Homo sapiens: one gene and its partners. The gene in region 2 interacts genetically with the main gene of each other region. Each region holds a gene or a part of one and is shown on either strand. Other genes may lie near its edges. The genes, in order: RPTOR, XRN2 and MPHOSPH6.

Region 1 (3,656 bases), on a different chromosome or scaffold from region 2:
TGGTAGCATAAGAGAATGAAACAGGCCACATTTAAGAAGAATAATGGCATAGGTTCAAAGATAAAGACAAATGGCAGCTGACATTTGGCACAGTGTGTGTGACAGTTTCTGGAGGGTGGGAACAGGGGCTCCCTGATGCCATAACTGAAGGGGCAACTGGGCTATGGCCAGGCCTCTCTCTTTGTCTTTGAGAAGTCAGCAAACTTTTTTTTTCTTTTATTGTAAATATTCATACTAATTCAGATTTATTACCAAACACACTGTAGTCCAACACTGCAGGCTGAACAACCCCATTTGTGGAGTGTTTTTCTGTTTCTTTTTTTTTTTTTTTTTTTTTGAGACAGGGTCTTGCTCTGTCATCCAGGCTGGAGTACAGTGGTGAGATCACACGGCTCACTGCAGCCTCGACCTCCTGGGCCTGAGTGATCCTCTCACCTCAGCCTCCCCAGTAGCTGAGACTATAAGTGTGCGCCAGTGTGTCTGGGGTTGGGGAGTCTCACTGTGTTGCCCAGGCTGGTCTTGAACTCCTGGGATCAAGCAATCCTCCTGCCTTGTCCTCCAAAAATGCTAGGATTACAGGCATCAGCCAACACGCTCAGCCTGGGGTGGTTTTTTTTTTTTTTTTTTTTTTTTTTTGAGATGGAGTTTCATTCTTGTTGCCCAGGCTGGAGTGCAGTGGTGTGGTCTTGACTCACTGCAACCTCCGCCTCCCAGGATCAAGCTATTCTCCTGCCTCAGCCTCCCAAGTAGCTGGGATTACAGGCGCCTGGCTAGTTTTTTTTGTATTTTTAGTGGAGATGGGGTTTCACCATGTTGGCCAGGCTGGTCCTGAACTCCTGACCTCGGGTCGTTCACCTGCCTCAGCCTCCCAAAGTGCTGGGATTACAGGTGTGAGCCACAGCACCTGGCCCTGGGGTGTTTTTTGACCAGTGGGTTACCTACGTAAGAATCTCTGTTACCCAGGCCTCCAGGCCACACAGTCCCACTGTGCTGGACGTAGCCTCCAGTCTGGTGGAGCAGCATGTTTGTAAAGTGAAATGTGTGGGCGTGGTTGTTCTGTGCTAGGAGCTACATCAACTACTTCCTGGTGGCCACTGACTGTCCTAAATGCAAGCTGAGATTTTGCTTCTTCTTGTGGTTAATGTGCAATTCCATACGCTTTTATTTTGTACATATATTCATTAGTTCTTACTGGCTCCTATTTAGTAGCCTTGCTACAGATTCCTCAAATTGACATCTTTACCAAAGTTGACTGACTGATGACTCCCAAGAAGTTTTTTTTGCCACCCAACACTTGGCATCCTTCCAGAGCTACAGCCCTTGCCCGCTCTCAGTTGGGATTCCTGCCATCTTTGTTTTGAATCAGTCTTGGTTTTCAAATGCCACTTTTACCACATTTTAATTTCTAAGTTACTGTTACTTTAAAATTATTATCAAGTTAGTTTGTTGTTTGGTTAATTCTACTATGTATAGTGAATGAGGCATATATGTATCCATAGTGTTTTTAGCTTGCAATTTTCAAATAACTAGACATATATGAATTGTAGTTCAAAATGAATCATTCACAGACCTTTGGCTAAAACAGATACGTATATATCTCCCCTATTTGTGTTTTTGGCTCACTGCAACCTCCGCCTCTTGGGTTCAAGCGATTCTCCTGCCGCAGCCTCCCGAGTAGCTGGGATTACAGGTGCCCACCACCATGCCTGGCCAATTTTTTTCATATTTTTATTAGAGACGGGGTTTCACTATGTTGGCCAGGCTGGTCTCAAACTCCTGACCTCAGGTGATCCACCTGCCTCGGCCTCCCAAAGTGCTGGGATTACAGGTGTGAGCCACCGTGCCTGGTCTAACTGTGATACTTTATAGTTATCACAGAGTTCATTTTCCTACTGGAAAGTGGACAGTGGGGATAACTGGTCTCAGATGACTCTTTTGCCTGGAATATGTGGGATGGAATGACGGGTGCTTGAGAGCTATTGCTCTGAAAGTGTTGACAGACATGCTATGTCTACACACATGTAGACTGACAGACACTCTGTCTACATGCATGTAGCACCCCTGGCAGACACATTCTGTGTACACATGTGTGGTGTCATTGTCAGACACTATTTCCATGCATGTGTAGGACCACTGACAGGCATCCTATGTCTACATGTGTAGGGGATGAAACGGTTAGATGAAGAAGGCTATTTTGTAAACCATTCTCTAGACTCAGTTGCATTGCTCTGTAGCCATACTTTGCCCAGGTCATGGAGGAAGCAGAGTAGATCTGTTCAACTAATACATGGACTGCCAAAGGTTTATGCGGTCTTTTCAGCAAGGGTAATAGCAATCCTTCATAATCTACACTACCCCCTCTGCTTTCCTCACCTTGCGTCCTCTCCACATTCCAACTGTGCCCTGTTCCACTCCCCTGAGACTGGTCTCCATATGGCCCCAGTTTGTTGCTAAATCTAAAGTTCTCTTCTCTGTCCTTCTCTGTTCTTATTTCACCTCTCAGCAGCATTCCACAATGTGGACCATGGCCTCTTCATAAAGCTCTTTCCTCACTTGCTTCTGTGTCTCCACGAAACTCGGATTTTCCTCTTAGGTCACTAGTTGTTCCTTCTCAGACTCCTTTGCTACCTGACACCTAAATGCAGGGGCACCCCAGGAATTGATCTTGGACCCCATTCTCTGTTCTGGGTGTGCCCCTCCCTAGCAGATCTCATCGGGGCCCATGATTTTAAATAGTGTCTACATGCCAGTGATGCTTAAACCCCCAATCTTTAGTTCTGATCTGGCCTGAAATTTCTGTCTCAGATGCCTACTGCCTGCTTTTTCTTAGTTTTCTCCATCACCGCTTGCCACAACCACCATCCACTCAGTTGTTCAAGCTGTAAGTTTAGAGTTTATCCTTAATTCTTTCCTCTCCCTCTCTTTATCGCCCCATCCAATTCATTAGAACCCATCAGCGTTACTTCCAAAGCATGTCTTACATTGGCCTGCTTCATTTTGTCTCCACTGATGCAGCCCCAGTCCAGGCAGCCACCGTCTCTTGTCTGGACACTGCATTTGTGTCCTGACTGGTCTCCCTATGTCCATTCTTGCCCTACAACCAGTTTTTCACATAGCAGTCAGAGGGATCTTTTATTTATTTTGAAATGGAGTCTCTCCTTGTTTCTCAGGCTGGAGTGCAATGGCGTGATCTCGGCTCACTGCAACCTCCACCTCCCGAGTTCAAGAGATTCTCGTGCCTCAGTCTCCCGAGTAGCTGGGACTACCAGTGCATGACACCATGCCCGGCTGATTTTTTGTATTTTTAGTAGAGATGCGGTTTCACCATGTTGGCCAGGCTGGTCTTGAACTCCTGAGCTCAAGTGATCCTCCCACCTCAGCCTCCCAGAGTGCTGGATTACAGGCGTGAGCCATCACACCTGGCCAGAGGGATTTTTTGAAAGTGTGAAGGGGTGGGTTGCCCCTCCACACCTGTGGGTGTTTCTTGTTAGGTGGGACGAGAGACTTGGAAAAGAAAAAGAAACAGAGACAAAGTATAGAGAGAGAAATAAGGGGACCCAGGGAACCAGCGTTCAGCATATGGAGGATCCCGCCAGCCTCAGAGTTCCCTTAGTATTTATTGATCATTCGTGGGTGTTTCTCCGAGAGGGGGATGT
Region 2 (3,656 bases):
TGGTGTGATATCGGCTCACTGCAGCCTCCACTTCCCGGGTTCAAGCCGTTCTCCTGCCTCAGCCTCCCGAGTAGCTGGGACTACAGGCGCGCCACCACGCCCGGCTAATTTTTGTAGTTTTAGTAGAGACGGAGTTTCACCATGTTGGCCAAGCTGATCTTGAACTCCTGACCTCAGGTGATCCACCAGCCCCTGCCTCCCAAAGTGCTGGGATTACAGGCATGAGCCACCGCACCTGGCCAGGAATTCCAGTTTTAATATTAGGTTCCCTCAGAACTTTGAAAGAAATTGTTCTTTTGTACTCTCTCATCTAGTAGTGTTGATGACAAGTTCGGTGTTAATGTGATGTATTTATTTAACCAGCAGTTATATAGCATTTACCATTGTTTTAAGAACTTTATTATAACTTGTTTGATCCTCACAACCACATGACTTCTACTGTTGTAATTATTTTTATTACATACAAATAATAGAAGCACGTTATTTGGAGACAACCAATATTGTTATTATGTTATAATAATTACTATGTTTATTGGCCGGGTGCGGTGGCTCACGACTGTAATCCCAGCACTTTGGGAGGCTGAGGTGGGTGGATCACGAGGTCAAGAGATCCAGACCATCCTGGCTAACATGGTGAAACCCCATCTCTACTAAAAATACAAAAATTAGCTGCGCATGGTGGCGCGCCTGTAGTCCCAGCTACTTGGGAGGCTGAGGCAGGAGAATCACTTGCACCCGGGAGACAGACATTGCAGTGAGCCGAGATCCCGCCACTGCACTCCAGCCTGGTGACAGAGCGAGACTCCATCTCAGAAAAATAATGATTATTGTTATGTTTATTATTATTTCAGATGAGAAAATGGAAACACAGCAGGGTCGCGTATCATACCCAAGGTCACTCAGCTGATAAATGTCAGAGCTAGTGTGGAAACCAGAAGGACTTAATTTTTATGCTCATATGCTTTCATTCTTTTGTGATCAGTTTTCCTTCCTAGATTTTAAAAAGATCTTTTTCTTGATAGTGTAAACTTTCATTATTAGGTACCCAGGTATAGATGTTATTTTAAATTCAGATTCATTTTGATCAGTACGTGGCTCACTCTTTGAGTCTGGAGTCTTACGTTCTTCGGTTTTAGGGAATGCTGTTTGATGATTTCTTGACCTTTTTTTCTTCCCTTTCCAGACTCAGGATACTGGTCCTCTTAGACTCATGTATTTTTATTTTTATTTTCTCTCTCATTCTCTGGCTTTCCTTGAAACCTCCCCCAACCTTTGGTGTTTTTGCAGCTTTGTTGAGGTATACTTGACATAGAATAAACTGCAGGTAATTAAAGTGTACAATTTTCTTTTAACTTTTTTCGAGTTGAGGTCTTGCTCTGTCACCAGGCTGGAATGTAGTGTGCAATCATGGCTCACTGCAGCCTCAAAGTCCTGGGCTTAAAGTATATAATTTAATACAGTGCATACATCTGTGAAACCAGCACAACCAAGACAGTGAACGTGACCTCTAAAACATTCCTTCTGCCCTTTTGTAGTTCCTTTCTACTATCCCTCCCTGCCACCTGTCTTTTGCCAACCACTGACTGGTTTGCTTTCTGACCGTATGATAAGTTTTCATTTTCTATAATTTTTTATAAATGAGATTATATAGTATATACTCATTTTTTGCCTCAGTTACTTTCATTCAGTATACTTATTTTGAAATTCTTCCGTTGTTGTATGTGTCAGTAGTTTATTTCTTTTTTGTTTTTATTTTTTTTTGAGATGGAGTCTCGCTCTGTCGCCCAGGCTGGAGTGCAGTGGTGCGATCTCGGCTCACTGCAACCTCCACCTTCTGGGTTCAAGCAATTCTCCTGCCTCAGCCTCCCAAGCAGCTGGGATTACAGGCACATGCCACCACACCCGGCTAATTTTTGTATTTTTAGTAGAGATGGAGTTTCACCATGTTGGCCAGGCTGGTCTTGAACTCCTGACCTCAAGTATCTGCCTGCCTCGTCTTTTAATTTTTGGATAGTATTCTGTGTGTAGATACACCACATTTTATTTATTTATTCAGATGATTGATGAACATTGGGATTGTTTCCAGTTTTTGGCTTTCTGAAAAAGAAACCTATGAACATCTCTGTACAAGTCATTGTAGGGACGTATGCTTGCATTTGTTTGGGGGAAAAACATTAGGAGTGAAATGGTTGGATTGTATATTAGGTGTGTGATTACTTAAAAAGAAAAACCTGCCAGACTTTTTTTTTCAAACTGGTTGTGCCATTTTACATTGGCATCAGCAGCATATCAGGGTTCCAGTTGCTCAACTTCCTCACCAACACTTGATATAGTTAGCCCTTTTAGTTTTAGGTAGTCCAGTGTACTGTTACCTTATTGTGGTTTTAACTTGCATTTCCTTCAGATGCTTATTTGCTTTCTGTATATCATCACGGGCAGGGTGAGGCATCTGTTCAGATCTTTTGCTCATTTTTATCTTCGGTTGTCTTACTTAAATGTAGAGTTTGTTACATATTCTAGATAGAAATCCTTAGTTTGATATATCTTTTGCAAATATTTTCTCTTGATCTGTGGCTTGTCTTTTTACTTCTTAACAGTGTCTTGGGAGCAAACATTTAAAAATTTTAATGAAGTCTGATTAATTTTTTCCCTTTATATTTCTGCTTTTTGTATTTAAGGAATCCTTTGTCAAAGCCAAGGTCTCCTGTGTTTTCTTAGAGAAGTTTTATAGTTTTACTTCATTCTGTGGTTTCCATTTTTTGGTCTAGTCATATGGTGAATTATCGGTCTTTAAATGCTAAAGCCACCTTGCATTCCTTGGATAAACCTCACTTGATCATGTTGTATTATTTTTATATACGTTGAATTCAAGTTTGCTAAAGTTTGCTAAAGTTTTCTTGAGAATTCTTGAGAATTGTGTCTCTGTTCACAAAAGATATTTGTAGCATTCTTGTAATGTGTAGTTGAGATGTCAGAATAATGTTGACCTCAAATTGAGTTCCTTCAGTTTTTTGGAAGAGTTTGTGTAGAGTTAGTATTGTTTCTTCCTAAAATGTTTGATAGAATTTACCAGTGAGGCCATCTGGACTTGGAGTTTTGTGGGAAGGCTTTAAGCTGCAAATTAAGTTTCTTTAGTTGATCTAGAACTATTGAGGTTACCTATTTATTTATTTATTTATTTTTTGGATGAGCTTTTTTAGTTTGTATCTTTCACAGATTTTGCCCATTTCATCTAAGTCAAGCTTGTCCAACCTGTGGCCTGCAAGCTGCATGCAACCCAGGATGCTTTGAATGCGGCCCAGCACAAATTCGTAAACTTTCTTAAAACATCATGAGATTTATGCACAGACCTTTTCTTTTTTTTTCAGCTCATCAGCTGTCGTTAGTATTAGTGGCCCAAGACAATTCTTCTTCCAAAGTGGCCCAGGGAAGCCAAAAGATTGGACACCCCTGATCTAAGTAGTTGAATTGGCTGACATAAAGTTGTTCATAGTATTTTCTTACTATCCTTTTTTTTTTGTTATTAAAATGTTTTCACTCCTGTTTTTACTTCTCTTTTGTTTTCTTTTTTCTTCCTGTTAACTTGTTATTATCCTTTTAATATTGTTAGAATCTGTAGTGATGTTACCTCTTTCATTCCTGATACTTGTAATTCT
Region 3 (2,938 bases), on a different chromosome or scaffold from region 2:
GCACTGGGAAGAACTCGTTACTTCCCAGAGTTGGGAGGTGCATCATTCTCATACTCACAGTGAAAAAAAAAAAAAAGGCCAGATTAACTTCAAAGTCCTATCTTTTCTCATAACTCACCAGAGAACTGAGGTCACAGAGCAATAAAACCTTCCTTACAGAGATTTGAGGAGAGAGGAGACATGTACCTCATTCACTTCCTGGGAGCGAAATTAAATCAGTAGTTCTCAGAAGTCCTAGGTACTTATCTGCAGACAGAAAGACAGACACACATACACACACTTAATTCTATGTGCTTCTTTCTGTACTTAGCATTTAGAATAGAGTTCAGACTAGGAGATGGTACCATTGGTCAGTGGTAAATTCTGTTGGGTTATACCGTAAGAAACTAAAGGTTATTTTTGACCTGTAAAAGGCAATTTCTTATGGTTCAACCTAATACATCACTATATTCTGATCAATGGCTGTTTTTTAAAGTTATTATTTGGAAAAAAGTTATATTACTGAATTAGACTAAAATTGTTATTTGAAAGTACAAGAAAATATAAAAAGTATGTGAAAGTAGATTTTTATTACAGAGCAAATTTTTCTATCAATTCAATGCTTTAAATAAAACAACATAATACCATAAACTGACAATGACCTGGGAGCATGTAAATACTTAAGGCTGGAGAGGCATTTTTATTCTTGATAAATTTATATAATAAATTCTTATGACATTTGATTCCAAATTGTATGTACGAATTGGCTTGACATAATAAATATAAACATAAGGGCAATTTAAACATTGGCAGTAGTTTATGTAAGTCAATTCAAGGTCAGTGACTGGAGAACTATATTAAGAGAAACCTGAGGTAAAAAAAATCTTTAGGAAGCAGCCCTGTAACAATGTACATTTGTAGATCAGGGGCTAAAAATCCACTCTGAATGAATACCAAGAAGCAAAGGATGTACAACATCCATCACACATCTGTTTCAAAAACAGCATGTTTCTAAAATGATAATCTCTTTACAAGTAAACGTTACAGTATTAATAACTATAGAGACACCATTGGGATGAGCTCCAGATGCCCTGCTGACTTCCACCAAGCACCCCTGGGCCATCGCTTAAGGCATCCATCTTAATCCTGGGGCTTTAAGAACATCTTCTTTGCTTTAATTGGTGTTATGTCTCCATTTTCATCTTCTTCATAATTGGCATGGTCTCTCTTTCTGGCAAACTTTTTCCCAATTGTCCCCACCAAGGTCTCATATCTGTCAAGAGGACAGGCAGCACACGTTTAATTTCAAATAAAAAGGTAGGGATCAAGCCTTGTCAAGAATATCAGACCAAATATGCAATAAAAAAGATTACGAAAAAGAAAACTATCATTAAAAGAAACCATCTGATTTAACAATTTATGAACTTCTCTAAGAGTGATTAAATTCCTTGCCATTTTGGTGTTTGCATTACCCTAAATAAATAGAGATGTACATTTTAAAATACACATTTCCAGCAGCTCTGGAAATGGGCCCTCAACTGGCAGCCTGAGACAGGTCTGTGGCCCCCGTAGGCCATTAAGAGAAGGCCGATCACAGTCATCGTCCTACTGGGGGACTCCCTTGAAAGCTGCCGTGCACTGTGGGGTAAGAGGAGCATTCCTGGGAGAGCCAATGAATGCTAGGTCCAGATTAGAAGGCTGCTGCGCAGCACGGTTACCTTCTAGCCATCTCTTCATCTGACACATCAAGCTCTACTGTTTCATCTTCAACTTCTTCTGCTTTGTGCTTAGCATTCATCTGAAGCATCAATTTCTGAAAAATACACCAGTGCTGACCTTCAGGCTAGAAAACGCTTGTGAAAGGAACTGATGTCAAACTTACCTGAAGGCAGAGAAACTGAAGTCAAATAATCTAGAGAACTAGTCAAAATTGATAAGGGACTCTCTGTAATACTTGATACCACAATGGTGTAAGAGAAGTAAGCTCTGAGTCAAAAAAATAGTAAGGCAAAGCCCCACTGAATTATACTTAGGGTGAATTTAAAGTGTATTTAAGATCATAAATCTTAGTATTAGTTACTCATATTTAAAGCAGGCATACTGCTGACACATTCCGGTGAGTGGGGGAAGAAATAATAAACTTTCAGATTTTCCCTGAACTTCCCCCACCCATCTTTAAGCCATATGGAAGAAACACTAGTCGTCAGTAATAATTTTAAATGCATCTCTTGGTGGTGGTGGTGGTGAGTGGAGGAGGTGGGAGAAGTGGAAGGCTGGCCCTGTTTAATGGAGGGAATCTGCACCTCAGCCTTACCCTCCTAAACTTTAGAGTGGATAATGCATCCCATGTAACATCCATGCACCACAGGGTCTCTCCTCCAACTCTTTCACATAAACCTTTTTGTGATAATTATCCTCTGACCTTTTTTTTTTTAAATGTGTAATCTCTTCTTTTTAGCAAGAGGAGAAGGAATAAAAGATGAGAAATCAGTCTTAACTAGTTTTTCTAAGGCTTAAAAGAGTGATAATAGTTTAAAACCTTTTCCTAGGGGGAGTGTATTCAGTGTTTCAGAATCCAGTAATTAGGGCCATTTTCTAACACCCGTCCCTGCCCCCCATCAATTTCTGCGGGCAGTGGCACCTCTCCTTTCCCATTGCAGCAGACATACTTTGGAATGCTCGCCTATCCAAACCCTACTCTTTGAATACCACATCTTCATAATCCCTGCCTTTTTCTTCCCTCTTCACCCCACTGCCCAGCCCCTCTCCTTCTCAATCTGAAGCTTAATTAAAGAAAGTCAAAGCGAGACCAGCATATATTAAAAACAAACACTTCTAACATAACACCTTAATTATCACACATGCCTCCTCCCACTCCGCCAAAAAAGAAAAGGAAAACTAACCTAGAATCTTTCAATAAACTCTGGCAATTGGCTTAGTTAACTGTGGCTCCTAGAGA

Evidence for each region.
Region 1: changes in XRN2 (region 2) and RPTOR together harm fitness less than expected from each alone (positive genetic interaction), as found in Homo sapiens cells (one large-scale study listed by BioGRID).
Region 3: changes in XRN2 (region 2) and MPHOSPH6 together harm fitness more than expected from each alone (negative genetic interaction), as found in Homo sapiens cells (one large-scale study listed by BioGRID).

What each region holds. Positions count from the first base shown.
Region 1 is NC_000017.11:80,547,763-80,551,418, forward strand, and holds part of RPTOR (regulatory-associated protein of mTOR), read left to right. Parts: intron 1-3,656. UniProt on the Homo sapiens protein: Component of the mechanistic target of rapamycin complex 1 (mTORC1), an evolutionarily conserved central nutrient sensor that stimulates anabolic reactions and macromolecule biosynthesis to promote cellular biomass generation and growth.
Region 2 is NC_000020.11:21,306,194-21,309,849, forward strand, and holds part of XRN2 (5'-3' exoribonuclease 2), read left to right. Parts: intron 1-3,656. UniProt on the Homo sapiens protein: Possesses 5'->3' exoribonuclease activity. May promote the termination of transcription by RNA polymerase II.
Region 3 is NC_000016.10:82,147,612-82,150,549, forward strand, and holds the end of MPHOSPH6 (M-phase phosphoprotein 6), read right to left. Parts: intron 1,793-2,938; coding exon 1,698-1,792; intron 1,253-1,697; coding exon 1,120-1,252; 3' UTR 551-1,119; downstream 1-550. UniProt on the Homo sapiens protein: RNA-binding protein that associates with the RNA exosome complex. Involved in the 3'-processing of the 7S pre-RNA to the mature 5.8S rRNA and play a role in recruiting the RNA exosome complex to pre-rRNA; this function may include C1D.